Regions from separate parts of the Homo sapiens genome. Here all the other regions are reported to be linked to region 1. The links are microRNA targets in miRTarBase. Many come from high-throughput screens and were not tested one by one. Region 1 holds a microRNA gene; each other region holds the end of a gene's coding sequence.
Evidence for each region. Region 1 holds the annotated microRNA hsa-miR-301a-5p (GCUCUGACUUUAUUGCACUACU, at 1,904-1,925, opposite strand). A microRNA usually pairs through its seed, bases 2 to 8, with sites in the 3' UTR of a target mRNA and lowers its output. Matches are read on the target gene's strand: a 7mer-m8 pairs with bases 2 to 8, a 7mer-A1 pairs with bases 2 to 7 and ends in A, and an 8mer does both.

Region 1 (4,000 bases):
GATCATTTGAGCCCAGGAGTTAGAGAACCAGCCTGGCAACATAGTGAGACTTCATCTCTACAAAAAAATTTTTCAACTAGCCAGGTATGGTGATGCACACCTGTAGTTCCAGCTACTCAGCAAGCTGAGGTGGGATTGCTTGAGCCTAGGAGTTTGATGGTACAGTAAGCTATGATCACACCACCGCACTCCAGCCTGGGTGACAGTATGAGACCCTGTCTCTAAAGAAAAAGAAAAAAATATTGCTAAAAAAAAAATTAAACAAAGACATTTGGGAGGGCAACACAGGAGGATCACTTGAGCTCAAGAATTCGAGACCAACCACAGCCATTTTATTCATAATATGCAAAACGTGGAAATGACCCGATGTCTATAAGTTGGTGGATAAAGAGTTTGTGATATTCTATACAATGAATACTACTCAGCAATAAAAACTGTCCAACTGCTAATATACAACATGGATGAATCTCAAAGCATTATGCTAAGTGCAAGAAGCCAGACACAAAAGACTGTATAATGTATGATTCCATTTATATGAAATTCTAGGAAAAGTTAAACTAGAGATCAGTGGTTGCCAGGGACTTGGGGAAGAAGAGGTTGACCACAAAGAGGCACAAAGGAATGTAGGGGTCTCACTCTGTTGCTCAGCCTGGTCTGGAACTACTGGGCTCGAGTGATCTTCCCACCTCAGCCACCCGAGTAGCTAGGTCTACAGGTGCACCACCATGCCTGGCCACAAAGGAGCTTTTTGTAAAGTAACAGAAATGTTCTATATCCTGGCTGTGGTGGTGGTTACATGACTGTATACATTTGTCAAAACTCGTCAGTTCACTGGGCATGCCACACCCCTGTAGTCCAAGCTACTCAGGAGGCTGAAGTGGGAGGATTGCTTGAAGCCAGGAGTTCTAGGCTGTGCTGCATTATGATTGCCTCTGTGAATAGTCGCTGCCCTCCAGCTGGGCAACACAGCAAGACTTCGGCTTTGCTTAACAAATAGCTTACTTACTTTTATTTTATATAATTGTATCTCAATAAAATTCATATTTTTTAAAAGTGATGAATCCACACTATTGTATCTCATAAGAATAAACTGTAAAACAAACACTCTTAGGTTTTAAATTCAACCATTTCCTAGACAATACACAAAATTAACACCAATTAAGATTTGGAGGACTAGGCACAGTGGCTCACACCTATAATCCCAGCACTCTGGGAGGCCAAGGCAAGAGGACTGTTTGAGCCCAGGAGTTCAAGACCAACCTCGGCAACACAGTGAGACCCTGTCTCCACAAAAAATTTCAAGAAAATATTAGCCAGGCATGGTAGGACACGCCTGTGGTCCCAGCTACTTAGGAGGCTGAGGAGGGAGGATTATCTAAGCCCGGGAGTACAAGGCTGCAGTGAGGTGTAACTGGGCCACTGCACTCCAGCCTGGGCAACAGAGAAAGACTCTGTCTCTGGAGAAAAAAAAATGACTTGGGGCAAGTAACTGCAGGAAAAATATACAGCAGAAATTGTTTCCATCACTACCAATTCATCATAAAACTCAAATAAAACCTAAAGTTTGACAGAACCTATCCAAATATGTAACAGAAAGCAACAAATTATAAAGTATTACTCATTTAGACAAACCATAACAACTTAGATATAAAAAATATTCTCCAGACGTGTTTCATAATGCAGTAAAATATTGTTTTTAATTAGTTAAAAGGTTTTTTTTTTTCAAATTATGACTTTCTAAAAGATATACTGTTAGTAACAACATTATAGTTCTCAGCAACAAAGGTTGTGGTAAATTATTTACTGATACCGAAGAAAGATGTAAGGTAAGAATCAAAATTCTGGCGTGCATCCTGCTTTCAGATGCTTTGACAATACTATTGCACTGCTAGCTGTAAAGTACAGTAGTGCAATAAAGTCAGAGCATTCGTTAGCAGTAATAAGTAGGAAAGGAACACAAAAGCATCTTGCATCGGTTGAAGCTTCAGTGAGAAACGAATTTAAAGTAGGGTTGCCATTTTGGACAGAAAAACATCCAAAACCAAAAAACATTTATATCAATGTTTTTTTAAAAAAGGATAAGACTTAAATATCAAAGTGATGTTGCTTATTGATGACTAATATACAAATTAACATTCGAACAGAAACATGCATAGATGTAGAAAGGAATTTTGTAAATATGCCCTAAGCCTTAATAGTAATTAGAATGGGTATTGTTAATACTTTAGGATTGGTATTAACAAAACCAGTTATAATTACTACTAAGGCAAAGTTGTGAAAAATATTTTTGTTCTCTGCAGAGATGTTGGTTAGCTCCTTCTTCAAGGCAATTTACTGATTAAACGCCATGTAAAACAAGCCCTTTGAATAAAAGTATCAAAGAAAACAAATGAAAAGTAAAATAATAAGTTTCTCAATCTCTACATACTCAATCTATCACTCTGGAATCTAAACCACTAAACAAAGAAAACACAAAAGCACTTACCATCTTACAGCTTTTTATCTTGAGTTTACTAAGGGCTGTCATAACAACAGAAGGGAATCAATGTGCTCTAAACAGAACATTAACCCTATCTAACTGAATACTATCCAAGGGGATTTTAAAATTTCAGTTAACTCCTGAAATCTTAAATAGAGGCAGAAAGCATCTCCATTTCCTTCAAACTTAGAAATGTCAAAGAGAAAATAATGATGGGGGGAGGTGGGACTGAGATTTAAGTAACAAGTTTCCTTAGTTCCAAGCTAATTGACATTTTAACTTTTTTAACGGATAAGAACCCAATCAGAAGTCAGATGTAAACCCAGAAACAGAAATAGTATCATAGTATCACACTGCATTACCTTTTGTGTACAGTCACTAGTAGTACCACGAAAGAACAAAGCTAAACAAATACCACCCCATCATTAAGTGAAGGGGAAAAAGTCAGAGAACAAAGATTGCCCTACAATAAGCTTATTCCCCCATTAGTAATGTTGATTGATGCAAAAATATATTTTCATTATTTTCACCAACCTCCCTTTAAACGGTCCAATTCAACTACTTAGTCGGATTGAGCCTACTAAGGAAATGGGCTCATACAAAGGACAGCTGAAATATAAGTGTCTTGGTGTCAAATCCTGGGCCACATAACTAAAATATTAGAATATTTAACGCTGGTAGCCAAGTTTCAGGTTTTAAAGACAACTGTTTAAAAGATAAGTGTTTAACTTTCTGAATTGGAAGTTATTACAAACAAGAAAAATATTTAAAAAATTTAAGGTATTAACAAAATTAGGATAAACACTTTCTTTTCAAATTAAATATTATGCATTTCCTTTTACCTTGACAAATCCTTTATTTAACTGATGTAAAACCAAAAATCAGAAGATAGCACAGGAATCATTTACTCTTAAAATCTTATAAAATAAACTGGTCCACAAGTATAACATTTTTTTCTAGAAGCACATGGTAAATCTGAAGATGAGATGCACTGTCTTTTATTATCTAGTCAACACAAAGCAGTAATAATTAGAGCCATGATAAAAATTCATTTCTAAACCCTAATAATTATGGAAACAAACTAATAACCTGAAAGGAAAAAAAAAAAAGCTACCACTAATTTACTTGCAAGGATGTAAGAAAGGAAAAAAACCTCATTTCTTTTTTTCCTGTCTTCAAAAAGAATTTAAATACTACCCCATCATTCAAACAATACCTAAAAGTTTAAATGTCTGGCTACCTTATAATTTTCTAAAACCTACTTTTTCAAAATGTTTACTTCATCATTGTTCACTTAAAAGAGAATTTGTTCAATCTAAAGAAGTCCTGTGAGAATACTGACTCTACTGTAAAAGCCAGACGAAGTTTAAAAATTAGAAACAGCCAATTTGAGAAGCAAACAACCTGTTAAAAGCAGAATTAGCATCATTTAGCAGAAATGAATTATGAATTTAAGCAGAAATATCTATATCAGTAGGGAGGAATTCAGAATGGGAGAAGGGCAAGATAGTCTTAACATTT
Region 2 (6,517 bases), not on the chromosome of region 1:
TGCTCTTTTTACAGCCTATGCTGTGAATAGCAGACCACCCTTGCAGTGGGGAAAAGGACTGATGGAGCTGCTACCAGAAGCTAAAAAGTACATTGTCCAATCAGGCTACTTTGTAGAGGAAAATCTTCAACACTGGTGAGTCTGTAAGCGCACGCCCTGCTCAAACACGGTTGAATCTGTGCGTGTACATCCACCTGCACATATATGTCTTGTATTCAGAGATCACAGCAACCCTCATGGTTTTCACCCCCAGCCCCCTTTCTACCCATCTGCTAAGGATTTCAAGTTCCCTTCCAGTAATGATTCTACAAAGTAGCCAAGTGGATACCTCAATGAATAGGGCAGCTGTGGTGTTTCCCTCTTACACGGAATCCTGTCATTTTTGTGGCTATCCTATTCTGCCATGAATTTTCATGCCTATTTCCTACTTTCCTGGAATTTGCTTTTTCAGTGTTGTCTTGGTATACAAATAATATTTTGAAATCCTTGGTTAAAATTCCAGAGATACGTTTTTCCACTAGCTAACTAATAAGTGGTAAGGCCACATCTTCCCCTTCTCGTGAGTTCACTTCACATTGTCTTTCTTAGAATAAAAAGAGGCTTTCTGCTGAAGTCACCCACAGTTGTGATGTCTTGAAGTTCCCCTTTAAAAGGTCATTACTCTCGACCCTCCCAGGGAAAACAAACCTGTATTTCTTACCCTTTAACTTGATATGTATCTCTTTATTTAGCAACAGGATCAATGCCTTATTTATGTAGATCCTTATGAAAAATGTATTGAATGAATGGTACTTATATAGAAATAATTTTGATGTTTAAATAGTTTATGATATTACTGCAAGAAGCCGAAGTTATGTTGGATTTTTCTCTGTTCACACATCCATCTGGTGCTTTTTGTTATGACTTTTCACTTTATTTTTTTCAATTGACTCTAGATTTTTTCCTTTCTACAGGTCCTACTTCCAAACCAAATGGGAAAATTACCTAAAACTTAGAGGGATTTTGGATGGAGAATCAGCCCCTACCTTCCCTGAGTCTTTCGGTGTGAAGGAGAGGGATCAGTTCTACACCTCCCTGAGCTACTCTGGCTGGGGTGGCAGCAGTGGGCACGATGCCCCCATGATTGCCTACGATGCTGTTCTTGCTGCAGGAGACTCCTGGAAGGAGCTTGCCCACCGAGCCTTTTTCCATGGTGGAGACAGTGATTCTACAGCTGCCATTGCTGGCTGCTGGTGGGGAGTTATGTATGGTTTTAAAGGAGTGAGTCCCTCCAACTATGAGAAACTAGAATACAGAAACCGGCTGGAAGAGACAGCTAGGGCTTTATATTCTCTCGGGTCAAAAGAAGACACTGTAATTTCCCTTTAGGGAGACGTGATGTTCACTTCTGATGGATTCTTCTTTTGTGTATTTCCTTTTCTGCTATTTCTTTTCAGTTTTTCCAAAGTCAAGAGTCTTAACCTTGTACTCAGGGAATTTTGAGATAACAAGTCCCTTGGGCACCTTAAGCTCAGTTTTTTCAGGCTCATCCTGTTCTTCCAGAATCTATCCCTTTTCTTACACTGAAGAGTCCTTTAGCTCAATTGATAGGGTCAGCGTCTCGCAAGCAAAAAATCTCATGACCTCATATTTGAGTCTTCATTTTCATCATCTACTTGTTCTAAAAGTTTTTTCTGTTTGTCTCAAGTTGGGTTCCCACAAAGTGGACTTTGAGACAAAGATCTGAATGCAAGCAGTTTATATGGGAGATGATTCCAGGAAATACCGATATGAGAATGGGGAAATGAAACCAGGAAGGGAAGAGAGCTAGTATGGGGTATGTTAATGAGCAGGTTTCCACTGTGGGCGGTTGGCACTCTGCCATCTGAGTCCTCTGCCTAAAGCATTCCTCAGAACTGTCCCATTTGAAGGGCAAGCAAACCTGGGGTATTTATCCACTGACTTCCATCTGACACTGGTTGAGGACCACTGCCAGGGATGCTAACTCCCTGGTAATTCTTGGCTTACCCTTTGTACAAACCAAACCTTAGTGTCTTCAGGTAAAGACTCAGAGATACTTGCAGGGGCAAGCTGTAAAGGGCATGGGAACAGTGAGGGACATATGTGGGGTCCTAACAATATCTGCTAGGCTGGTCTACCTCCTAAATATACTCTGAATCTATCACCTCTATTGCCTTCTTGCACTGAGGATTTTTCAGCTGGATTTCTGCAATCCAAGCTACTCAAGTCTGGGAGATGCTGCTCTGAGCTGCTCTCAGTACTCTCCTCATCATGGCAGTTAACACATTACCAATTTTGTTATTGTCTGTTTGCTTGTTTGCATTATTTCTAAACAGAACCTAGCACAGTGCTTGGGCAGCCAATAGGCATTAATCAGTATCTATTGAGTGTTATGAACTAGCCTCCTAGCTCGTGCTTCCCTCATTACCCTCCAGAGTTATGTTTACGAATAACAAATTGACCATGCTAAACTAATCATGTTCCAATGAATACATCACCTTTCTTCATTTCTTGATGCTCTTCCCAATCCTTGTCTACCTGATAATAAATTCTTACTTGTCCTTCAAGACCCAACTCAGATAGATAGAGCTTCCTGAGTGAAACCTGCTTTGATTGTTCAGGCACTTGGCCACCTTCTCCTCACTCCTCCCACAGCCTTCTGTCTTGGCCTTGTCATCACATCAATCCTGTTGTGTGGTGCTGTGTGTCTTCTGGGTCAGTCCTAGGCACATGCTGCCCAGCACATGTCCACCTGGGAAATGAGATGCCATCGTCACATTCATTTGGTCACCCTCAGTCCAGCCAGTGGGCTTGCTCTCATTTGGCCTGTTCTCAGGGGTGGGAAGGAAGAGCGTCCCTTCCTTCTCCTTTTGAGAAAACCACAGAACTATGACTCTCATGATTTTTCCTTTGTGAAATCCCTGGTTTTCAGCTGGAAGCGGTGGGTAAATGAGGTCTGATGATAGCAGTCCTGCCACCTTCTAGTTCATCCCATAGGAATGTTTTTCCAAGTCCTTCCAGTCTTTTTAGAACGTGGTGGAGGAGGGTTGTGTGTGCCCCAGGGGGTCGGGGGTAGGGGATGCAGGGAGGATCTTAGCATTTGTTGTTTTCTAGTGCAGGGCTTTAGCCACAATTGTAAACAACAGGAAAAGGCTCTTTAGAGATCCTATTAGATTTGCTTTGCCGATTGTCACTCTTCATCACAGGCACATTTCAAAAAGAGGTTAGACTTTCAGACTTCTTTTTTCTCAAACCTCAAAACTTCCACCCCAAACTTCGCTCTCAGCTGGTGACTTTGCTTCTTTATGTGTGTGTATGTGTGTCAGAGAAAGAGAGAGAGAGAGAGAGAAGGGAGGATGAGAACGAATGGGGGGAAGAGATAAACTTTATGCATAACATTAGGGTAAATCAATAAAGATGGTCTGACACATCGTATGAATTTGCCATTCTTATCAAGTTAATCTATGCATATTGAACAACAGAAGAGGTCATATGTGACATTTCAAATGATGCTTTTTGGACCTGCTGTGTGATGCTGCTTCATTTGCTTTCTTTGTTAGCCAAGATTGCTACATGTTGTCTAGAAGTCTTGGCAATAGTTGTTTTTTGTTTATTTGTTTGTTTGTTTTAGATCTATAAAATTAGCATTGACCTCATTCACTCTTCTTCAAGATTCTCCAACCACCACATTCTCCATTTATTCTTCTTTCTGTACCTATCTGGAGCGAGTAAACTTGCATCTTTTTAAAACAGCCACTGAGCTACTAGGACATTGAGGGGAAGGAATGGGGATTAACTTCACAATCCAACCAGCCTCCCCGGCCAGCTTCTCAACAATGGCTGCCTGGGGTCTCACTGAGGATCCACAGGTCATTTAGATAGGGACTGGGGAGCAGCCTACCATCATTTGTTTTACTCTCTGGGCTTGGGGGTTGAGAAGAGTAATTCCTAGGGAGTAGGTGAAGCTCTTTCCATTTGGGGAAGGATAAAGAACAGAGGAAGAGAATATTGCTGTGTGTCAGATCATTCACAACAACCCATTAATAGATGAAGAAATTGGGCTCAGAGAGGTTGCCATCTGTCCAAAGTCACACAGGATGAGATGGAACTGGGGTTTAAAACCAGGTCTGTTTATCCTACAAAGGATGGAAAAGAACCAAACCAAGGTGCTTTTCCCAGTCTCATGCAGCACTCACACTTCTGACACCCAAAGGTGTGAGAGTTGTTTCTCCATGCACCAAGCAAGTTTCTAACAGACACCAAGTGAGTGTCCTCTAATTCAGTTCCGATGCTATCTTCTGGATGATAGCATCAGATTCCACAAGTTAAGGCACAAGACTGCCCCCTCCTCCCCCTCACCACTGCTTCAGATGCTGACCACAAGTCCCAGGTTGTGGCCTGTGCTTCTGACCAACCAGCTGTAAATCAGGTTCCCACAAAACCCCCCTCAGGTTTGATTAATTTGATGGAGTGGCTCACAGAACTCAGGAAAACACTTAGTTTACTGGTTTGTTAAAGGATATTACAAAGGCTATAAATGTCTAGCCAGTTGGAAGAGATGCACAGGGCAAAGCATGTGGGAAGGGGTGTGGAGCTTCAGTGACCTCTCCAGGTATACCACCCCTTAGGAAGCTCCATGGGTTCAGCTGTCCAAATCCAGTTCTTTTAGCTTTTTATAGAGGCTTATTGTGCCGGCCTGATTGACTAAATCATTGGCCATTTGGAATCAACTCAGCCTTTAGGCCCCCACCCCTCCCTGCGGGTCATGAGGTGGGTGGGGACAAAAGTTGCAACCCTCTAATCACATGATTGATCCCCCTGGCAACAAGCCCCCATCCAGAGGCTATCCAGGAGCCCACCAAAAAGTCACCTCACTGGAACAAAAGATGCTCCTCTCACCCGGGAATTATCAAGGGATTTAGGAGTTCTGTGTCAGGAACGAGGGTCAAAGACCAAATATTTGAACAAAAGATTAGCACCCCTATCTACGAGGGTTTTAGGAGCTCTGCGTCAGAAACTCAGGCGTAGAGACCAGATACATATTTCTTACTATATCATCAGACCACGTCTTTAAAGCCCGTTTTCTTTGTACACACTCTACTACACTCTAATTGTTAGCTGTTTAAGTATTAGAAAATCATTCCTTAGAGGCAAAATGGTGTAGTATGGTGACAGTGTAAGCCTGTGCTCTCTTCACCTTCCTACAACTAAGTGGTGATGTCAAGAGGAAAGGCTAGGTGTAGGTTTGAGATCCGCATTTGGCAGCAGGGGAAGGGAAGGGACAGAGTGAGCCCAGGAAAAATTGTGAAGTGGGCAGAGAATCTTCACTCCCCTTCAGACTCTTTCCCCTTCTCAGGCAGCTCCCCCACCTCTGCACTCATTTTGCCCCTTGGTCACTGTAGAGACCCCACCCAATGCTTCGGACATGATCTAGACTTATCTGTTCGCACTGCGTTTGGTTATATCTGTCCCCACTTGCCAAGGTCCTTCACCTTTGTGGGCCTTGAGGTCATTGTCTCTACCAGCTGGTGGCCTCAGGCAAGTGACTCCTCTCAGGGTATTTGAGCTTGGAGCCCCTGAATTTTCAATACTAATGCCCAAAGAACATGAGTCTAAAATGGGGTTGTCTGACTTGGAGATAAGAGCAAAGAAAGAATCCTTTGGTCTCCCAATCTACAGAGCTGTGGATAGAAACATTTACTAATAGACAGCCATGCTTCAAAGCAGTGTTTCTCATCATTTTGGCTGGTATATGGACAACCCTCCTCCCCATTGTCAATGCCAGCAGATGGAAGTGACACAGTCCATCTGTTGGCCCACTTCAGGGGCCGGCTGTGTCTTCTTACTATATCTTCCTTCTAAAATACACTTTCTATTGGAGACTGCTCTAGTGAAGGTGACATTCTGAGGTGAGGTGGACTCTCTACTGTCCCTTATTCCACCAGCCCTGAATCCAGGAGACCTAGGAGGGGGGTGCTCTGAAGGTGTGAATTTTTTCCTTGTTGCAGGCACATGGTAATTGCTATGTAATTAGGACTAAGAAAAGGCATGCTCTGTGATCTTTTCCAGAGAGCTGCCATTGAAACCCGGCTCTGCCACCAGATGCCTCCAAGCCTCAGGTTGCTCAGGACTAATGTAAGTTGAGGCTAATAATGCCCACCTTGAGGAGAATGGTGAGAATGAGAGTGGGTAGCATAAATTCAGTGGAATGCATAAGGACCTATTGCTGGTGGTAGTTTTTCAAATTCAAATCCATGCTCTGCCACTTTGTGTAGCCTTGGGCAAGTTATTAAACCTTGCGCTGCCTGTTTCTGAACGTGGAAAATGGGGTTAATAATAGTATCTACCTTGTGGGATTGTTGTACTTTTTACACAGCATAGTATCTAGCATATAATAAGCAGTTAAACAAAAAATGGAAAAAGATGTGTTAACATATACTATCTATATATTATTGATAGCTTTTAGAAAGTGTATCTAGTGTCTTCTTTTTACCAAGCTGTCATGAAATGAGAGACC
Region 3 (6,517 bases), not on the chromosome of region 1:
GGCCGAGGCGGGTGGATCACGAGGTCAAGAGATCGAGACCATTCTGGCCAACATAGTGAAACCCCGTCTCTACTAAAAACACAAAAAATTAGCCTGGCGTGGTAGTGGGCGCCTGTAGTCCCAGCTACTCGGGAGGCTGAGGCGGGAGCATGGCATGAACCCGGGAGGCGGAGCTTGCAGTGAGCCGAGATGGCGCCACTGCACTCCAGCCTGGGCGACAGAGCCAGACTCCATCTCAAAAAAAAAAAAAAAAAAAGAAAAAGAAAAAGAAAAAAAATTTAAATGCGCACAGGTAGGGCTGGTTCTAGTCCGGTCATCACGTCTGATTACACAGAGGGCGTCAGTTGCCCTGTAAGTCAGACGGAAAGATCCTAACCAGCTCCAGCCGGCACCTAAACCAAGACAGACTTAGGGTCCGACCAGGCAACCAGAGCACAGATGGGGCGGGAAAGGGTGAGTGGGCAGAAGCGGGCACCAATGACGGGCTCCCCGCGACCCCGCCGCCTGCCCCCCGCGCCGCAGGTCTACCACGAACGCGTCAACACGCACGTGGCGGAGGCTGAGTTCGACTACGCGCGCTGCGGCGTTCGCGACGTGTCCAAGACGCTGGTGGGGCTGGAGGGCGCGCCGGCCACGCGGCTGCGCTTCACCAAGTGCTTCAGTTTCGCCAGCGTGGAGGCCGAGAACGCGTACCTGTGCCAGCGCGCGCGCTTCTTCGCAGAGAACGAGGGCCTAGACGACTACATGGAGGCACGCGAGGGCATGCACCTCAAGAACGTGGACTTCCGTGAGTTCATGGTGGCCTTCCCGGACCCGGCCCGGCCGCCCTGGTACGCCTGCTCGTCGGCCTTCTGGGCCGCGGCGCTGCTCACGCTGTCGTGGCCGCTGCGAGTGCTGGCCGAGTACCGCACGGCCTACGCGCACTACCACGTGGAGAAGCTATTTGGCCTGGAGGGCCCGGGCTCGGCCAGCAGCGCAGGCGGTGGCCTCAGCCCCAGCGATGAGCTGCTGCCCCCGCTCACCCACCGCCTGCCGCGGGTCAACACAGTAGACAGCACGGAGCTCGAGTGGCACATCCGCTCCAACCAGCAGCTGGTGCCCAGCTACTCTGAGGCGGTGCTCATGGACCTGGCGGGGCTCGGGACGCGCTGCGGCGGGGCAGGCGGCGGCTACGCGCCCTCGTGCCGCTACGGTGGGGTAGGCGGCCCGGGCGCGGCGGGCGTGGCTCCCTACCGGCGCAGCTGCGAGCACTGCCAGCGCGCCGTCAGCAGCTCGTCTATCTTCTCGCGCAGCGCCCTAAGCATCTGCGCCAGCCCGCGGGCCGGCCCGGGGCCCGGTGGGGGCGCGGGCTGCGGGGGCAGCCGCTTCTCGCTGGGCCGTCTCTACGGCTCCCGGCGCAGCTGCCTGTGGCGCAGCCGCAGCGGGAGCGTCAACGAGGCCAGCTGCCCCACGGAGCAGACGCGGCTGTCCAGCCAGGCCAGCATGGGGGACGACGAGGACGACGACGAGGAGGAGGCCGGGCCGCCGCCGCCCTACCACGACGCCCTCTACTTTCCGGTCCTCATCGTCCACCGGCAGGAGGGGTGTCTGGGCCACAGCCACCGGCCGCTGCACCGCCACGGCTCCTGCGTAGAGACCTCACTGTGACCTCCGGCCCCGGAGTGGCCCGCGCCGTCCTCCCGCCTGCCCCTCGCCGGACTGTGCTCCCTCTGCGACGCAGGGCGAGTCACCACGGTGACTGAGGCCGCGCGGGGGGCAGGGAAAGGGAGGTGAGGGCCGCAAGACAGGCCCGGATGGGGCCGAGACCCCCGCTGTCCCTGTACATAAAGAGACCGATGGGTGGGAGGGGGTCGGCTGCTCCCCGAGATCCCCCTGGCAGAGTCATTCTTCCAGCCCCAACCCTGAGTTCCTAAAGGGACACCTCCCTCCTGTCCAGCCCTTCAACAGATCTTCTGTTAGATGACAACCGTGCCGTGGGCCCCGCGTTGGGCCTTGTCTGAAGGGAGAGGCCCTGGCATGCGGATGGGAGATTTAGAGGCTGTGGAGAAGGGAACTTGGGGCTTTCCTTCCTTCGTGGCCTCACTCCCCTGGGGCCTCTCTCTATGGAGGGGGCAATGGTTTGGTGACCAGCAGGCTGGATTCCAACTAGCTAATGCATTCAGCAGGTCTGAGGCTGGGGCCAGGTGTCAGCCCTAGGCCTCCATCCAACACCGTGGAAATGTTGCTGCCCTCTTCTTGGCGCTGACCCCAAGATTGGGGTTTCCTTTCTGCCGCTCCCTCCACTGTTGTTTATCTAACTGGGCCCCCACTCCAGGTCCAGAGGGACTGTGCTCACTGCACAGACATCACTCACCTTCCGCTCCCCAGTCCTGCAGAGCTGTTGCCAGGGTGCAGTGGGGAGGGGAGTGAAATGTGGAGGACTGTGTACCTCAGTCCTCTCTCTAAACTCCTCAGCCTCCCAACAGGGGCCTCCTCACCTGGGTTCTGAGTGTATACCCCTTTTAGAGAGTGAGATGCCACCCGGGCAGCACTCGTTAAAGCTGGCCAGCACGAGTGACTAAGGGGAGAGAGCATGACATAGACCTGGGTGGCAACGGGGACCTCTGGAAGCAGGTGGGAGTAAGAGAGGAGAGGGCAGTGGAGGGTAGAGGAAAAGGACCTCCAGAGGTGGGGTGTCTGTGGGGGCGGCCTTTGCCTCCCTAAACCTGTGCGGAGGAGTGGAGTGTGCTTGTCGCTCAAACACATCTCTGGGGGACTGAGGACGTTGTCACAAGCCCCAACTGGAGAAATAATTCCAATGGCAGGGTCAGAGGCAAGCATTCTCTAAATCTTGCCCAACCCTTCCATCCTTCCCTATCCTATGAGCTGAAGCCCTGCTGTGTGTCGCAGGGTCTTCAAAGGGGCATCCTGCCACCACCCCAGGGCGCTGGCCCCACGTCCTGTTCCCCTAAAGCTCTGACACCGCCTTCTCTCCGTGTGCTCCCCCCACCACCTCCACCCTGATGTGCTTCAGTGTGCATGTCTGTGAACAGCCCTCCTGCCCTGCCAACTCCCCTGGCTAAAGTCTCCCCAGCAGATTTAGCACCCAGGGATTGAGCTCACATTTCAGGCTAGAGAGGATAACCCTTGGGCCACCCACATCTCTCACCCCTGATGCTTCTTACTTCGCCTGAGCCATCAGAACTCCTCCTTACCCTCCTTCAGCCCCTCTCATCTTCCTTCAGCCCAGCCAGGCCTGCACCACCAACTGTGTGGCCTCCACCTATGCAACATCGCCTCTGGCTCCCCTTCCCTTCTTCCTAGCGGGGAGTGCGAGGGGCCCAAATTGTGGGGATACCATGGCCCATGGCTTCTAAAGGGTTTAGCTTTACTTTCAGGTAGAGATGGCTGAGTGAGGAGGGAGAAGAGGCTAGAGAGAGGGAGGCTTGGGCAGGGGAAACAGCTGCCCACCAGGTTTTCCTGGACAGCAGTGCCCACCTGCCTACTAGCACTGAACCTGCCTGGACCCTGAGTCTGTGCTCCTTGGGGGCCTGGCGTTTGGAGCACCCTTCTTTCCTCTGAATGGACATCTGTGAGGTACAGGTGGTGAGCTGCAGCCTCAGGCTCCATTTCTTAGCCAGCTGGCACCTGGATGTCATGCTTTGTGTGGGGACAGCCTGGCCACCTCAGGGCTCCAAGGAAGGAGGAACGTGGCTCCTCCTCCCTCAGGCCTGTTCCTGAGACAGAGCCTGGTCTCACAAGAGGGGAAGGGGGACCTCTATTATTATTTTTGCCTGTATTGACCATTTCTGCCTAGGTCGTCTCAGACAGCCTCATCTCCCACACATGCACAGACTTAGAGAGAAACCAATTCTTTGGTCTATTTTCTTGGTAGCTTTACTGATTGCCAGGGAAAATGAAAACCAGAAAATTAATTAATCTCTAAAATTAAACTTTACACTGAATGTTCTTGTTTCTCTAATTAGAACTTCTGCTAGCAGCTGTGGCTATACACACACACACACACACACACACCCTCACACCTACACGTTTGCACTCCGGAACTGTCAGAGGGTGTCAGGCACAGACAGACTCTAGGTTGCCTAGACAGGCACACACATGCAGTCACTCCCAAGCCCCCTTTGGTGCTCTGCTCAGCGCCTGCTTAGCGGAAGGAGTCCCTGGAGAGCAGGCACTCCTGGACTGGGGTTGTAGCCCATGACCTGCCCTTTGGGGACACAGTTCTGGAGGCTCTGGGCCAATGAATCAGCCCAAGGAGGATGGGCAATGGCGCTCAGCCTGAATCAGTCAGCTAGGTCTCTTGTGGCCCTGGGGGCTGATGTGATTCCTGTAGGTGTGGCCCCAGGGTGGACAGCTACAGAGTGATGGGGGACTCATGTAGGGCACCTGGAAGGCTCCATGTGTCCTGGGGACAAGGGCTTGTGGGGTGGGCTGGGCCTGGCTGGGGAGAAGACAGGTCTCTGTCAATTGGGTGCATCACACTGTGGCCTTTTTGTCGTGGATTTAAGCGCAAAGATTGTACAAATCAAACTGGTGGATAATAAAGTCGTGGATGACTCACTGACTTCCTGTCCCAGTGTGGCACTTCTTTCCCTCCCTCCCAGGGAAGCTCTCTGGGGTGGGTGGCAGGGATTGTGTCATCCTTCCCTGGAAGTTGTCATCTACAGTTGCCTCCCCAGAGGAGTCCACTGGGTCTGAGCCCCTGGTGTCAGCTCATTGTCCCCTTCCCAGGTTGGGAGTTGGGGAACTAGGGGATGGCGTGGCCTGTAGAACTGGATCACTTAAAGCAGAGTCAAGCAACAGGGAAATGCATCTACAGGGATGAGGGTGGCAGAGAGAGCCAGGCATAGCCCTGCTGTAGCCAGAGGGTGTGTGTGTGTGTGTGTGTGTGTGTGTGTGTGTGTGTGTGTGTGTGTTTGAAGATCAAGGATCTGTTTGGTAGAGAAGAAAATGGTGGGGAGTCAGGGAGGCAGGCAGCCCCAACGGGAGAATCTGGCAGGCACAGTCCCTCAGACACCTCTCTGACTTCCCTGTTCCTGAAAGAAGTTGGTCATTTGTGGGTGTCCAGTAATATCCTTTCCCTGGGCACAAAGGCTGGGTCCCTACTGCATACCCTTTCTTCCCCCATGCCAGGCTCCCTTCCCTGCCTCATGTCTCCATCCATACAACCCTTGATCACTCCAAGGTTATTCACAGTCCCCCTCCCCGCTCCCTCTGAACCAGTGTGATACTCTGCAGCAGGCATGGCAGGGGTATGAAATGAGGGATGGGGCTGGGGCCATGATCCAAGTCAGGTCATTTTATCCCACAGAGTTCTCAGGGCCATTGGCAGTTATGGTTGACATGAAGTGGCTGGGATTCAGGGCCCGCTGGCGGGCTGCTTCTCGGTTTGCGTAGAGGGCCTGGCCAATGAGGTACTCGCTTTCCTGGGCCACATCTGACAGGCGCAAGTCAAATTCCAGGAGGGTCTTGTTGTCTGACATGCCTTCCAGGAGCTGCTTCCCACCGTCCTGGGAGAAGGGTGCAAAGGAAGGGGTCATTTACATCACTACCCAGGATCTGACACACATACTACACATTTTCAGGTAGATGTGACTAAAACAAAAGTTTCACAAAACAATACTTAACCTATTTGTGACGCATGATGACATATTCTGTTCTTTTCCATTTGAAAAATGGTAGCCAATACCCACTAAATTGACATCTCAACCCTACTAGTTTGAAAAACATGAATCTCTGGCAATGAAGATAATTCCATTCCTTTGGTTCAGCCATGGGCATGTGGGACAAATCTAATGAGATGTGAGGGGGAAGCTGAGAGAGGGTGGCTTCTGGGAAGCTTCTCCTCATTCCAAAAAGAGAAGAAAAGGGAGCAGGTGTTCTCCCGGTTTCTGCCTCTGGGCATGTCCCTGTATGAGATGTCAGAACTGTGGCAGCCATCTTGGGACTGACAGAAGCACTAGCGAGGCATTGGCCATGAGACTGGGGTGGGCAGAGCAGAGGGTAGCACTGAACCCAGGGGTTTACCGACCCTACAACCCTCTAATTCTGGTTGTGGGAGACACTGAATATTCCTCCTGCTTAAGCCATTTCTGATTAAGCTTTTTATTACTTGCAGTCAACAGCACCCCCTCTAGAAACTGTGTGTGTGTGTGTGTGCGCGCATGCACGTGTGTGTGCGTGTATGTGCCTGTGTAGGTGAGCAAGGCTGTTCTCATGGGGAGGTTTAGTAGAGGGTTCAGTGACCTAATGGAGGGCCCTGCTCAATGGTCATCACAGCTCCAACCCCTGCTGGGCTGGGTGGGCTAGCCCCAATGTGAAAGAATTTCACGTTGGGAGGCAGAATGCTACCATTCTGTGGTTGTGACCCAGTAGTGTGTTGCAAAGTCAATTTAATGGGTCACAGAAGCATTTTAAAAAATACAATAGAATGGAATGTAAAGGAAAATATCAGCATATATCACGTCATAAATTTCAATATTATGTTTATGTCAGTGTTCATGTAAATTGCATTTTT
Region 4 (6,517 bases), not on the chromosome of region 1:
ATTCTCTCAAGTGAGGAATGATATATGCATTATGGAATGCTCATTGCAGCAATACTTGTAATAGCAGAAAACTGAAAACCATCATTAGGGACTGGTTAAACTAATAATAACAAACTTATACAATGGAATACTATGCAGCCACAGAACAGAGGTCTATACCTCGTAGACCTCCATCCACGTCAGTAAGTAGAAATATACTTGATTTTTCTTAAAACAAAACAAAAAAATGAGTTACAAAAAGTGAGGACAAGTGAAAAAAGCAACTTGTATAAGGGTATGCACAGTATGAATCCCATTTATGCAAAAGAAAGAAAAGGTACTTCTATGTTTGGGTTTAGAAAGTTTCTGGAAAGACATGTAAGAAACCAGCGATTTCTTCGGGGGAGTGGGACAAGGTAGAGAAAACTTTTAAATTTCTACTATGTACCCTTTTTTGTGTTTGTTTTTGTTTTGAGACCGAGTCTCACTGTGTTGTCCAGGCTGGAGTGCAGTGGCGCGATCTCAGCTCACTGCAACCTCCGCCTCCCGGGTTCAAGAGATTCTCCTGCCTCAGCCTCCCAAGTAGCTGGGATTACAGGCACCCGCCACCATGCCCGGCTAATTTTTTTTGTATTTTTAGTGGAGACGGGGTTTCACCATGTTGTCCAAGCTGGTCTGAAAACTCCTGACCTCAGGTGATCTGCCAGCTTCGGCCTCCCAAAGTGCTGGGATTACAGGCGTGAGCCACCGCACCCTGTCCCCCGCCTTTTTTTTTGTGAGACGGAGTCTCGCTCTGTCGCCCAGGCTGGAGTGCAGTGGCAAGATCTCGGCTCACTGCAAGCTCCGCCTCCCGGGTTCACGCCATTCTCCTGCCTCAGCCTCCCGAGTAGCTAGGACTACAGGCGCCCGCCACCACGCCCGGCTAATTTTTTCTATTTTTTAGTAGAGACGGGGTTTCACTGTGTTAGCCATGATGGTCTCGTCTCGATTTCCTGACCTTGTGATCTGCCCGCCTGGGCTCCCAAAGTACTGGTATTACAGGCGTGAGCCACCGCGCCCAGCCCGGTCCCTTTTTTTTAAAAAAAAAAAAAAAAAAAAAAAAAAAAAAGCTGGTCTGCACTTTTGTTTAAAAGCACATTTTTTTTAAATCGCCATAAATTAGGGGCATAGGAAATATATGATGTTCATAATGAAGCCATGCTAATTTAAATTTTGCCTCTCAAGTGTCATGTAACTGGCAGAGCTAAACAACTTAAAGTTGCAGTCCTATCTCTTAAGTTGGGCAGGGTGAGACATTTGTCTGAAAGAGGAAGTGGAAAGAGAAGGACAAACAATGGTTAGGTAAGGCCTCTTGGTGCACCAGTGGTAACTGCCCAGGGGATGTATCTTCCTTCTTTTGGGAAGCCTAGAACCACTATGGGCAATGAGGAATGGGCTACACAATTCAAACTTAGGATAAACCTAACTTCTCATTGAAGAAGAGTCAAATTGGCAAATTTAGGAGAAGATCCACAGCATGAGATCCTAAATGAATTATAGTTTACACATATTATTTAAAAAACTACAGAATATACATAGTACTATGATCTTTTTTTTCTTGAGACAGTTTCGTTTTTTTTTTTTTTTTTTGAGAGTCTCTCTCTGTCGCCAGGCTAGAGTGCAGTGGTGCGATCTCAGCTCACTGCAACCTCCGACTCCTGGTTCAAGTGATTCTCCTGCCTCAGCCTCCTGAGTAGCTGGGATTACAGGCACCAGCCACCATGCCCAGCTAATTTTTGTATTTTTAGTAGAGACGGGGTTTCACCATGTTGGCCAAGATGGTCTCGATCTCCTGACCTCATGATTTGCCCGCCTCAGCCTCCCAAAGTGCTGGGATTACAGGCAAGAGCCACCGCGCCTAGCTGAGACAGAATTTTGCTCTTGTTGCCCAGGCTGGTGTGCAATGGCGTGATCTCGGCTCACCACAACCTCCGCCTTCGAGGTTCACGTGATTCTCGTGCCTCAGCCTCCTGAGTAGTTGGGATTACAGGCATGCACCACCACACCCAGCTGATTTTGCATTTTTAGTAGAGATGGGGTTTCTCCATGTTGGTCAGACTGGTCTTGAACTCCCGACCTCAGGTGATCCACCCACCTCAGCCTCCCAAAGTGCTGGGATTACAGGCGTGAGCCACCGCACCCAGCCCAGTATGATCTTTGTATAAAAAAAATTAAAAACCCATATACTCATGTGTATATGCACATACATGGTTTAAAAACAGTCTAACCAGGAGTGATTGTGCACAACTGTAGTCCAGCTACTCAGGAGGCTGAGGCAGGAGGATTGCTTAAGCCCAAGAGTCCCTTCTAATCATGTCCGTAAATAGCTACTGCACTCCAGCCTGGGCAACACAGTGAGACCCCATTTCTAAAAAGAAAAAAGGTGTAGAAGGATATATGCCAAATTAACAGTCATTACCCCTGAGAAGTGGAAAGATGGATAACTTTTTTTCCTTTTATATTTCTGTACTGATATTTTAAATACTACTTTCGTAATAAAAACTTTTTTAATTCATAATTTTCAAACTTTTTGTGGTCATGAAAAATTTTCAAATATTTTTCTATAAGGAGATTTTAATTTCAACTTCAAGGCATTTTTGATAAACATGCCTTGTCCCATCTGTCTGGGTGGTTAAGTACGGTCTTGCCTGGATACAGGGACAGACCTCATAATCCTTCAAGGTCACTTCAATCTCTGGATTTCTGATAAAGTACAGGTAAGCAATTAATCAGAAATGCAGGGCTTTTTCCTGACACCCAGCAGGCTGTTGGTGTCGTTGGACAAATTCCCCAAAATGAGGTGCTCTTGGAAAATACCCAGAACTCCTTGACTACTGTTTTCTTTACTGACAGACAGACAGACACACACACTCTCTCTGAATGTGTTCAACCAACCTGAACCCTGGCAGCTCAGCTTCACTCAGCCAAGGAGGCAAGGGAAGCCCTGAGGCAGCTACGTTCTGCACGGCTGCCACTTACAGTCTGGGCTTCAGACTTGGGAGAACACATGCCAGAGAAAGAAAAGCTCTGCTGTGATTAAATCACAGATGCTGGGGGTGAGTGTGGGGTGGAAGGGTCTGGCACCCATGCCACCTGCTACACGCAGGAGCTCAATTATACGGTTACGTTCAATACTCAGTCAAGGGACAGGGAGTTGGGGAGAGCAGTGCCATTATAAACTTTGGTTACCTGGGAGAGCCTGGAGAGCTGTGGTTTTCTTAAAGTGGTTAAGTTCTCCTTTGGAAAGTCACCATTCCCTATCCTATGATCCTTTCTCACTAGGAACAACTGCATTTGCTCTTCCTGGCTTTCATATTTTAATTTGGTTCTGAAGCTACGCAGTGGTGGCAGACAAATGACTTGGGAATCAGATACCCTCATTTAATCCTGGAACAAGCTGTCTGAGTGACTTCTACCCCCATGAGGCCCAAAGAAAAACATAATGAAATGAAACCACTTGCTGCTATGAAACAAAAGTGGGCATATTTATGCAGTTGTTTTTATTTATTCAACTGTAAAGACTGCAGCAATTTTTTTGATGAGTAATGCCTTAGATTAACACTAATTATATTGCTATAAATTTGGTTCAGGATCAGAATAGGGTTCAGGAAAGGGAGAGAACAAAAAAAAAAGTCTCCAAACATTAAAACAGAAAAATGCTTTTTTTTTTTTTTTTGAGACTGAGTCTTGCTCTGTCTCCCAGGCTGGAGTGCAGTGGCACAATCTCAGCTCACTGCAGCCTCCGCCTCCTGGGTTCAAGCGATTCTCCTGCCTCAGCCTCCTGAGTAGCTGAGATTACAGGCACACGCCACCATGCTCAGCTAATTTTTGTATTTTTAGTACAGACAGGGTTTCACCATGTTGGCCAGGCTGGTCTTGAACTCCTGACCTAGTGATCCACCCGCCTCAGCCTCCCAAAGTGCTGGGATTACAGGCATGAGCCACAACGCCCAACCTTTTTTTTTTTAAACTTTAATTAAATGCTACTTTCTCATAGACTTCCCTAGACTGGTTTGCAATCTAAGGTAATAGGAAACAAGGCATTGGGCATTTTGAAGAAACTGCAGGTTAAGCTATGGTGCCAAGCAGAAGACTAAACACTGATTTGAGTGTCAAATCTCCAGCACATTCTGGGATAGAGGCAGGTTCTCAAATGTTTCCTAGTGTTCTTTCCTTTTCACTAATTAAATTTTCCCTTCTCTGGCGAATCCAGTGCAGTATACAACCCCCTGATTGCCTCTCTTGGTCAAATAGTTGTTAGAAGGGAACCTGTCAGGCACCTGTGGCTTCGGCTTAGATTGGAAAGGTGACAGACTAGCTCTGATTCACCTCCTCCTGAGACAGCCTGGACAGTGGAGGGATCAACTGGAAGGCCGAAACCTGGTAACAGCTGCCTCTGATTCCTGGTGGAAATGACCAACCAGATTCAATCCATATCACTGGGAAAGATCAAGGAAAAAAAATAGCTTCCCCTCCAAAAATGGTAAAGAGGAAATAAGGAGACAAGAAACCAAAAATACTTAGAATGGCACAAAAAGTGATACGCATAAACTTCTTTTTGTTATTACATCTAACTGTAAGTTTCCTAAAGTCCAGTTATCAAGTTGAATTGTGTGGATAGAGGAGAGAGGCCAACTGGATTTTCTCTCAAGAGTTCACGGCTTCAGTCTGAGAGGTCCTGGGTTTGCGCTGGGGGAGCCCCTTTTTGAATGAAGGCGTGGGAGGGCTGGGCTCCATGCTGACTCCAGTTCCATTGGTCCCTGCAGAGTGAGTCTGGCCTCTTTCAATGGTGTTTCCTGGTGCCTGAGATGGAGCACTCTGATACCTGGAACCAGATGAATACCACGAGCTGTTTCTGTAACGACCCATACTGTCATGCCGCCCTTGGTTCATGGGGTCATTGGACTTTTGGCCTTGTGGCCTATAGCCCTGTCCTCCTCGTCTGTTCCCTGGCAATACCTAAAGATGAAAGAATACAATGTTCAAGGTGCTCTAGCATTATGGTACCCCATTCGTTCACTTTACAGGAGTATTCTGAAAGCAGAATTGTGGTATCCCATGCTTGGGACTCAGTTATCTCTCAAGACTCAAAGAATTCTCTCAGCCAATCCAACCTAGCCACTACTTCAGAACTAATCCATCTTTCCCTGCTCTTCATGCCCAGGCTCTTCTCCACTGAAGAATTTACTTTTCTTTAGCTGGATGCAAGAAGAAAGATAAGGAAGAAAGAACATTCTCTGGGTTGTTACAAGCCCTCGATTGGACAAGTATATTATATTATGTCTGAACTCTGCAGATAAAAGGCCATTGGTAAAGATAATACACATTTGGAATAATAAAGTAAACATCACTATGGCCTGCTTTGCTAAATGTCATGAACTACAGATTAAAGTATGCTGCTGTGGCATTCAGCACATCTTTCGCATTATAATCCGGAAAGCTTACGGTATGGGATTTTATTTTTGTCCTCCAATTCCAAACATCATACCAGTTCTGAAGAATTACTGACAGTACTGCCTTGGATTGCTCTTGTGTTTATTCTTCAAACAGGAGAAGAACCTATGGATTACTCCTCAGCTTTCTAGTGTTTTCCCCCCATCCCCACCAGTTCACTCTCTCTTTCCCTGTAAATTCCACATTGTGCTTCTAGGGAGCTGCTGCTTTCAGATGCACACTGGTAAAACTGCCACTTGTGGTGCCTGTCTACCTTGAGATGGGTGCACGACTCCCAGTGTGACTAATTACCAGGCAATACTATCTACAACAGCAGGGATCACTGCCAACACAAGAAAGTCAGCAGTTCTTGGCAACAGGAAATCTAAACTGGCTGGCAGTTTGGAACATACGTATCTAATGCTTTCTCAGGAACTAACTTGGGTTGGAGGGATTCAAAACAGGCATGGAATGGGAATAGAGAGGAAGATAATATACTGAGCTAACAGCATTTAAGCTTTGACAATCTGGAGGGTTTTCTTCCTAACATGCTCAGTGTAGAAGCTAGGTTACCTCCCGAAGTGGCTGGTAGGGCTGGCCACTGGAGTTTGCTATGGCTGCAGGAGTCTCTCCCGGTGCAAAGTTTTTCTTGTTAGCACTTGTAAGGCTGGGAGGAGAGGCACAGGTGGAAGAGGAAGCAGCAGAGGCATCACTTGGGCTACTCAAGGACACAGATGTAACTGAGCTACATCGGGATCTGGTCGAATAGCTGTTCTTTGGATGAGACACTGAAACAGAAATATGAGGAATATATGATCATATGATAGAACAGCACAATGGATAAGGTTTCTACTTTCTCAATTTCACAATGAGCAATTTAAGATAAAGAACTGTCTATTCGAATAAAGAAAAACCTATAAAACTGGTAACAGGAAGAAAAATCTCCCTTCTGCCCTCTTCCTCCACTTCCTCCAAAGCCCCACTGCTTTGTAAAGGAATTCTTAGACAAGAGAACAGTTAAAATCAAAGTTACCCATTCCCCACCAACTAATGACTTCTTGGGATT
Region 5 (6,206 bases), not on the chromosome of region 1:
CTGGCAGGCCCCAGCTTCTGGCTCCAGGCGTTGGTTTCCCTGCCCAGCCCCAGGCAGGCTTTGAAAAGGCTGTGGGCGCCCACCCTTCCTTCCATCCAGGCTCCAGATCCTCAGGCCCGGCGGCGGCGGGGCCAGCTGGGCCTCCCCAGCTCCAGGATTCCGGCCCTTTGTTCCTGCCCAGGATGCACCTGGTGGCCTCTGGCCCTCATTGTTTGCTCTGAGGCCAGCTGAGCTGCATCAGGAGCAAGACATGCCAGGCCCAGGACAAGCAGCCAGTGAGCAGGGGAAGGGTCCCTGGAAACCAACTGGGTCACCCTGGGTGCTCCCCAACTTCTCCAATGGGGCAGGGACCTCACAAGGCTCCAGTTTATCCTAACAGAGGTCCTGCAAAGGCAGAAGAAACATACGGAGGAAGTGATCTCCGAGTCACTGGTCATCATCCTCCAACTCACCCCACCCCACTCAAGATGTTCACCCCATATCTGCTTCTGGGTGTCAGGACAAACAGCAACCCGCTAGCAACCCGGCCTTGGGGATGATCGGCGTAGATGTGAAAGCAGGCCCTGAGGGGAGTGGAGCCCTGGCTCCAGCGTGGGCAGTGACAGTCCTCTGCAGCCCTCATGCCGGGGCTTGCCACTCATCACCCCGATGGCTCTAAGCCACCTGCCCGCTCTCCCTGTGGCCCCAGCCCCATGACCTGCCAGGACTGTACCCCATGTCAGAGTGCCTGATATGAGGGCCCAGAAGGGGGCCCTGCTTTGCAGAGGTGGAAACAAGCCCAGCACATCCCAAGTGTCGGTGGCTGACCTGGGGAGGACCTGTGTGTCCCGACTCCTCAGTGCTCTTCCTGGCAGAAGTCTTGGGTGCAACCCAGCCCTGCGATGGCCTGTCCTTCCCCTCAGGGCACACCTGCTTCCTGCCTGGTGGGTGCCTGCCTTGGCCCTTCTTTTCTGCTTGGCCCTTAAGACTGCAGACCCCCTGCCACCCCTTCCTCACAAACACGGGAGGGTGCAGACAAAAGACCAGACCTTTCAGCACCTGCTCTGGGCCTGGTGCAGTCAACTGGCAAGCTGTGCCCGGTCTCTCCGCACCCCTCCCCCTGCCTCACAGCAGGCTCCCCGAGGCACTCCCAGCCTGAGAGGGCTGGTCAGGTGGAGTCCTCTCCTGTCAGGCAGGAGAGATGGAGTCCTCTCTTGTGCCCGGCCCAGCTCCTGTAGATGCCCAGTAAGGTCCAGACCTGTTGGGGTCAAAGCTCCTGCCAGAATCCAGATCCCCGAATCTCAGCAACCCAGGAGTCTGTCCTCACTCACCTGATGTACGGGGAAGTGGCTGCGAGCATGTTGAGACTGGTTCTGTCTGCCCCGGTCCCTCACCTAAGGGACAACCTAAAATAGAACCCAGGCTACCCCGAGGTTGCACGAAGTGCCGGCCCCGTGGGGCTGGGGCCATAGAGCTGGCCAGGCAGGGCTGCTGGGGCAGGGCGTGGCGTCTGGGCACAGGACCGCAGGCCCTTGAGGGTGCTGGAGGGGTGTAAGGGATCCTTCTGGAATCTCTCCACTCTCCCTGGAATCTCTCCACTCTCCCTGGAATCTCACAGCTTCCCCCTTCCACCTATTAAGCTGTCCCTGAGATCCTGGAACTTTGAGTCAAGGTATAAACGATGCCCTCCCCATAGGTGCTGCCCTGGGAAGCAGCAGAGCCAGCTCCAAATTGAGGGGCACAGCACTGTGGACGGGCCCCGCAGGCCCGTAACTTGGGACAGAAGGATCCCCTCAGGGCCACCCTAATCAGCATCCAAGGCAGCTGCACTGCAGGCGGGACGGATGGAGGATCTGGGAGTGACCGCCCCACCTGGGAGTGGTGGCTAAGGGGTCTGTGCTGCCCAGGACAAGGCCCAGGTGCGCTGGCAGGGACGGCAGTCCCCTGCTGACGTGTGGAGGCCGCTGCACACAGGGCCCGCCCGGCAGGCTCCATGGATGCTTGCTGACCACTAGGGCAGAACCCCTTCCGCACAGCAGAGGACACAACGAAGGGGCTGCTGAGCAGGGAGGAGCTGAGTCCAAGCCCAGTCCTGCCCCAGTCCTTTCACGCCCAGCTCCCAGCTCTACAGCTGTTGCCCACTGCCCACCCCAGGGTACCTGCAGCTGTTGGCACCCAGGGGTGCAGCTCCCAAGCACTTGCAGGTCACAGTGCAACTCCTGGCTTACTCAGGGCCAAGGCAGTTGCTGGGCTCCCAACCCTGAGGAGTCTCCACCTGGGAAGGGCATTCACTACATGCCCTCGTGTGCAGGAAGCACCACCACCATGGGCCTTTTGCATGTGACGTGGACAAGGTGGTAAGTGTTCTCCAGGCCAGCTCAGTGCATTCACAATCACTGTAGTGACTCACACCTGTAATCCCAAGGCTCTGGGAGGCCAAGGCGAGAGGATTGCTTCAGCCCAGAAGTGCAAGACCAGCTTGGGCAACATGGCGAAAAGCCCATTTCTACCAAAAAAAAAAAAAGAAAAAATAAATAAACAAACTGCTGGAGATGGTGGCACACACCTGTGGTCCCAGCTACTCAGGAGGCTGAGGTGGGAGGATTGCTGGAGCCCTGGAGGTTAAGGCTGTGGTGAGCCGTGATCGACCCCGTCTCGAAAAAACCAACAAAAAACAATGCACAGGCAAAAAAGTTTATCTGGTTGCCTCTGGGTAGGATACCTTTTTTCTTTTTCTCTATTTTATACATCCTGACAATTATTTCCAAGATGATACATGCCTCAAAACAAACAAAACCCCTCGAGACACACTCCCCAGCCCCCAGGGAAGGCATGTGTCTGGGCTGTGTAGGGGCTTCCGCTCTCCTGGGGGTAGCTCTGCCACGGTCTCTGGGGTCTTGGCATCTGTCACAGAACCCTAGTGGTTACAGGGCTCACTGTCCCACAGCCCCAGGCCACACGGTGATGTGCTGTGGCCCAGGGGAGGCCACCCTGGACTCCTGGTCAGGATCTGCCCACATGAGGAAGTGCGCCTTGGGGTAGGGCCACAGGCTGGCTCAGAGGTGCCCTTCTCTCCACAGCCAGTCCCAGGAGGGAGCTGGGTTCTGGTTTATGCGACGTCAGAGGGACGGCAGGGAGTGGAGGGCAAGCTAGAAAAGCCCAAGCTTGTTGTTTCAGCCATTTTAATACATTCAAGAATATTTACTAGAACAACATTTAAACGTATCGTCGGTCCGCAGAAGCCTGGGATCGAGAGAAATAGAAACGCGACTGGCCCTTTTGCAGTAAAGCTTGTGCTTGAAGGGAGAAGAGGCAAAGTGGCTTCTTGGAGACTTCGTGCCAGATGCCACAGGACTGAGAGCATCTCCAAATGTCACTTTAAACACGTGTGAGCATCTATAGTCATTCCTAAAGCCCACAGTGTCCTAAGGATCCTATTAGACGAGGCAAAAGGCAATGCTTCTGGAACCCTCTCCCTTGCAGCTCTGCACGCAAACCTTCCCCAAGGAGGGGCCCGAGGCAAGCCTCTAGATAGGCGGGGCCAAGCCCTCCCCGTGCCCACCCTCTTTCCCTGTTGCTGACCTCAGGCCTGATGCTGGACCCATGAGACTCCCAGAGGGAAAACACAGATACAGCCCATCCATCCATGGCCACCTTCCTCCAGAAGATCCTGGGGACCCCTACCCCCCCATCCCATGAGGCACCAGGGCTGGGCTCGCATGGCCAGCAAGGGATAAAGTTGGGAACTGCAGACCAGGGGAAGCCCCCTCATTCTTAGGGCAAAACAGCCCCTGAAGGACAAAATAAATAAACCAAACCATGACCAGACAGCTGGATCCGGACAGGTGGAGTGGCCTCTGTGAAGGCAAATGAGAGCAAAAGTGGGAACTGAGGACACCTAAGTGGAGAGACACTTAAAAACAGTAATTCTCACATGAACATCAGTGGCTCATGCCAACAGCAGAGCTGGCCATCAACAGAGGAACAGCAACAAAAACACAACTCAGACAGGGGGCGGGACGGGGCCAGGAGTCTGCGGGGGTCTCTGATATGCTTTGTGGCATGACTTTGCTTGCCTGGCCTCTCCTTTCTTAGCTGAAAACAGGCATTTCACCAAAGGGCATCCAGCCAGCGGCAGCAGCCTGAGCTCCCAGGCTGACATCTGGGCAGGGCTGATGGGCAGCTTCTGGCCATCTGGTGACCAGGTGTGCCGCCAGCTGCACCCACATGCACAGCCCCTTTCCTAATAACCACATTCTAGGTTACGTAGACACGTTAAACTCCTATTCTAGAACATCGTGCTTGAATGCAGACCCCTCAGCCCACAATCGGGCTGGCTGGGCCTCCTGTGAGCCCCTCATTGCATCCAGTCTGTGGGGCAGTGACCCCGCTTCCACTGGTGGCTGGTCTTCCTCATGGTGCTATGCAGGTGCCAAACACAGTTATATTCTCAAAGGTACAGGTCTTGTCTGGACATTGTTCAAACCAATAGCTACTGCGTTAGGCACACGGGAGATCCCTATTCCCAAAAATAGCTGTTGAGTTCTGGCCTGAGAGCATCTCCAGTGACCACCTTTAAATAAGGCTTTGGTTCAAACAGCATGGACCCAGCACCTGGGGAGGGTGGGCACAGGGGGCATGGACCCAGTACCTGGGGAGGGCGGGCATGGTGGTAGGAGACAACTCAACCACTGAGTCTTGGAGGTCCTGCCTTGGCCACGGAGGGCAGTGGCTGCCCTCACAAGAAGAGTTAAGGCACTTTCTTTAACTCTGGCCTAGGAGAATTATGTCTTAGTGACTCAGTGAGTTTAAATGACACTGCCTGGGCTCCCTAAAGTTGTTTACTTTTCTCCTATTTCCTGCTTTATTCCTTGCTCTCACCATGCTAATGTACAGATGTTGTTTAGATTTCTATGCTTATTGAAACAATGTAACTTTGGTACTAACAGAACAGGAGCGACCTTTTCCAGCATTGCTCGTAACAAAACAAAAATGTTAACTAGAAAAACTCCTTATGATGAAGAAATCTAAAGCCAGAGCTGGGACTCCAAACCCCTTCCAGGCTGGAAGACAGGTCGCTGAGTCCAGGCAAGGGGCCCCCGTAACTGCTTCCCGCCAGAAAGCCCAGCCGCGTGAGTGCAGCAGCAGCACCCCAGCCCTGGCGTGCCCGCACCACGCCCTCTAGATACTCTCCTAGCTCAGGCTGAACACGCCTGGATTGTGTCGGCCGGGACAGCCCCGTCAGGTGTGGGGCAGCTGACCCACGTCTGTGGTGAACATGCTCCTCCAAACTAGGACGGTGAAGGGCCCAGGGCGCTGGGAACTGCCAGGCGCTGACTCTCCTTCTGGGTTCTCACCAGCACCGGAACCCACCCCAGCCAATAGTCAGGAAGTGCCGCGGCCGAGCCTTCATCAACCCTAGTGAGTTTCCCACAGAACTGAATCCCTTTTCCCAAATTCAGCTGTGCATGAGCCCTTTTTGTTTGGTGCCCTGGAGCACTAGTGTAGTTCAATATTCTCTTCAGAAGGAAAACTCCAGCAGCCACCGGCCTGCAGGATGTGTGCTGAGCCCACATGACCTGAATGGACGGGTCATGTGGGAGGGGCCCTGGTGGGAGCTGTGGGCCACACGGCTGAGTTCTTCCAATACGGAAGCCCCGAGCTGGAGGCTCACACGCTGTGGGGCAGCCCAGAGTTGCTGGAAGCTTTACAGGGGTGCGTAGCTAATGGCGTCGGTGTCGCTCGGTCGCTGTGGAGGGGTACCCCCGCTATTGGGGCGGCTCCTCCCGGCATGCTCAGGTCTCAAAGTACTTGTAGATCGCCGTCACATACAGCATCACGTTCTGCCAGTCGGGTCGTTCAGTCCGTACCATTTCATTAATGTCCTGACAGACAAGGAAGACGCTTGGTTAGAACTGCAGGTCACCTCCAGGCTGTGCCAATGGGCTCTGCCATAGCAACATGGGCTCTTGGAGTTGGATGGGGCCTTGAAATATTTTCTAGGCCTAATTACACATTTTTAAAGCCTGGCCAAGAATGCTTCCTCCCTGGGCATCAGCATCGTCCCCAGGCCATCCACCCCTGCCCCAGAGCCACAGGCAAGGTGCCTCCCTGCTCACGGCTCTGCAGGATGGGAAGGGTTTCATCCAGTCTGGGCGGAGGAACTTCCTCCCTCCTCCCCGCGCCTGCCTCTCTTCTTAAACCACTCCTTGGGGGACCCTTCTGAG

Region 2: miRTarBase lists ADPRH as a target of hsa-miR-301a-5p. Seed matches in the 3' UTR shown: 7mer-A1 at 2,048-2,054 and 8mer at 3,322-3,329.
Region 3: the mRNA of TMEM151B is a reported target of hsa-miR-301a-5p. Seed matches in the 3' UTR shown: 7mer-m8 at 2,806-2,812 and 7mer-m8 at 4,046-4,052.
Region 4: miRTarBase lists SPATS2 as a target of hsa-miR-301a-5p. The part of its 3' UTR that is shown has no 7-base or 8-base seed match.
Region 5: the mRNA of SPECC1L is a reported target of hsa-miR-301a-5p. Seed matches in the 3' UTR shown: 7mer-A1 at 4,022-4,028.

Annotation. Positions count from the first base shown.
Region 1 is chr17:59,149,284-59,153,283 of GRCh38, forward strand. MIR301A (microRNA 301a) reads right to left here and starts at 1,938; the gene lies at 1,853-1,938. The region is part of intron 1 of SKA2 (spindle and kinetochore associated complex subunit 2); the gene reads right to left. RefSeq lists a silencer at 817-896.
Region 2 is chr3:119,586,511-119,593,027 of GRCh38, forward strand. ADPRH (ADP-ribosylarginine hydrolase) reads left to right here. Exons shown (of 5, transcript NM_001125.4): 4 at 1-135; 5 at 954-3,435. The coding sequence ends at 1,368. Among named protein-coding and RNA genes, the nearest start is that of PLA1A, 8.1 kb to the right of the region's middle.
Region 3 is chr6:44,274,881-44,281,397 of GRCh38, forward strand. It overlaps TMEM151B (transmembrane protein 151B), which reads left to right. Exons shown (of 3, transcript NM_001137560.2): 3 at 523-4,564. The coding sequence ends at 1,647. It overlaps DRC5 (dynein regulatory complex subunit 5), which reads right to left. Exons shown (of 5, transcript NM_182539.4): 5 at 3,854-5,510. The coding sequence ends at 5,301. Among named protein-coding and RNA genes, the nearest start is that of TMEM151B, 7.7 kb to the left of the region's middle. RefSeq lists an enhancer at 529-1,321.
Region 4 is chr12:49,524,404-49,530,920 of GRCh38, reverse strand. It overlaps SPATS2 (spermatogenesis associated serine rich 2), which reads right to left. Exons shown (of 14, transcript NM_023071.4): 13 at 6,025-6,239; 14 at 3,496-4,977. The coding sequence ends at 4,666. Among named protein-coding and RNA genes, the nearest start is that of KCNH3, 11 kb to the left of the region's middle.
Region 5 is chr22:24,414,192-24,420,397 of GRCh38, reverse strand. SPECC1L (sperm antigen with calponin homology and coiled-coil domains 1 like) reads right to left here. Exons shown (of 17, transcript NM_015330.6): 17 at 2,660-5,864. The coding sequence ends at 5,775. SPECC1L-ADORA2A (SPECC1L-ADORA2A readthrough (NMD candidate)) reads right to left here. Exons shown (of 20, transcript NR_103546.1): 18 at 5,654-5,864. Among named protein-coding and RNA genes, the nearest start is that of ADORA2A, 10 kb to the left of the region's middle. RefSeq lists enhancers at 1-215, 1,434-2,043 and a silencer at 2,554-2,730.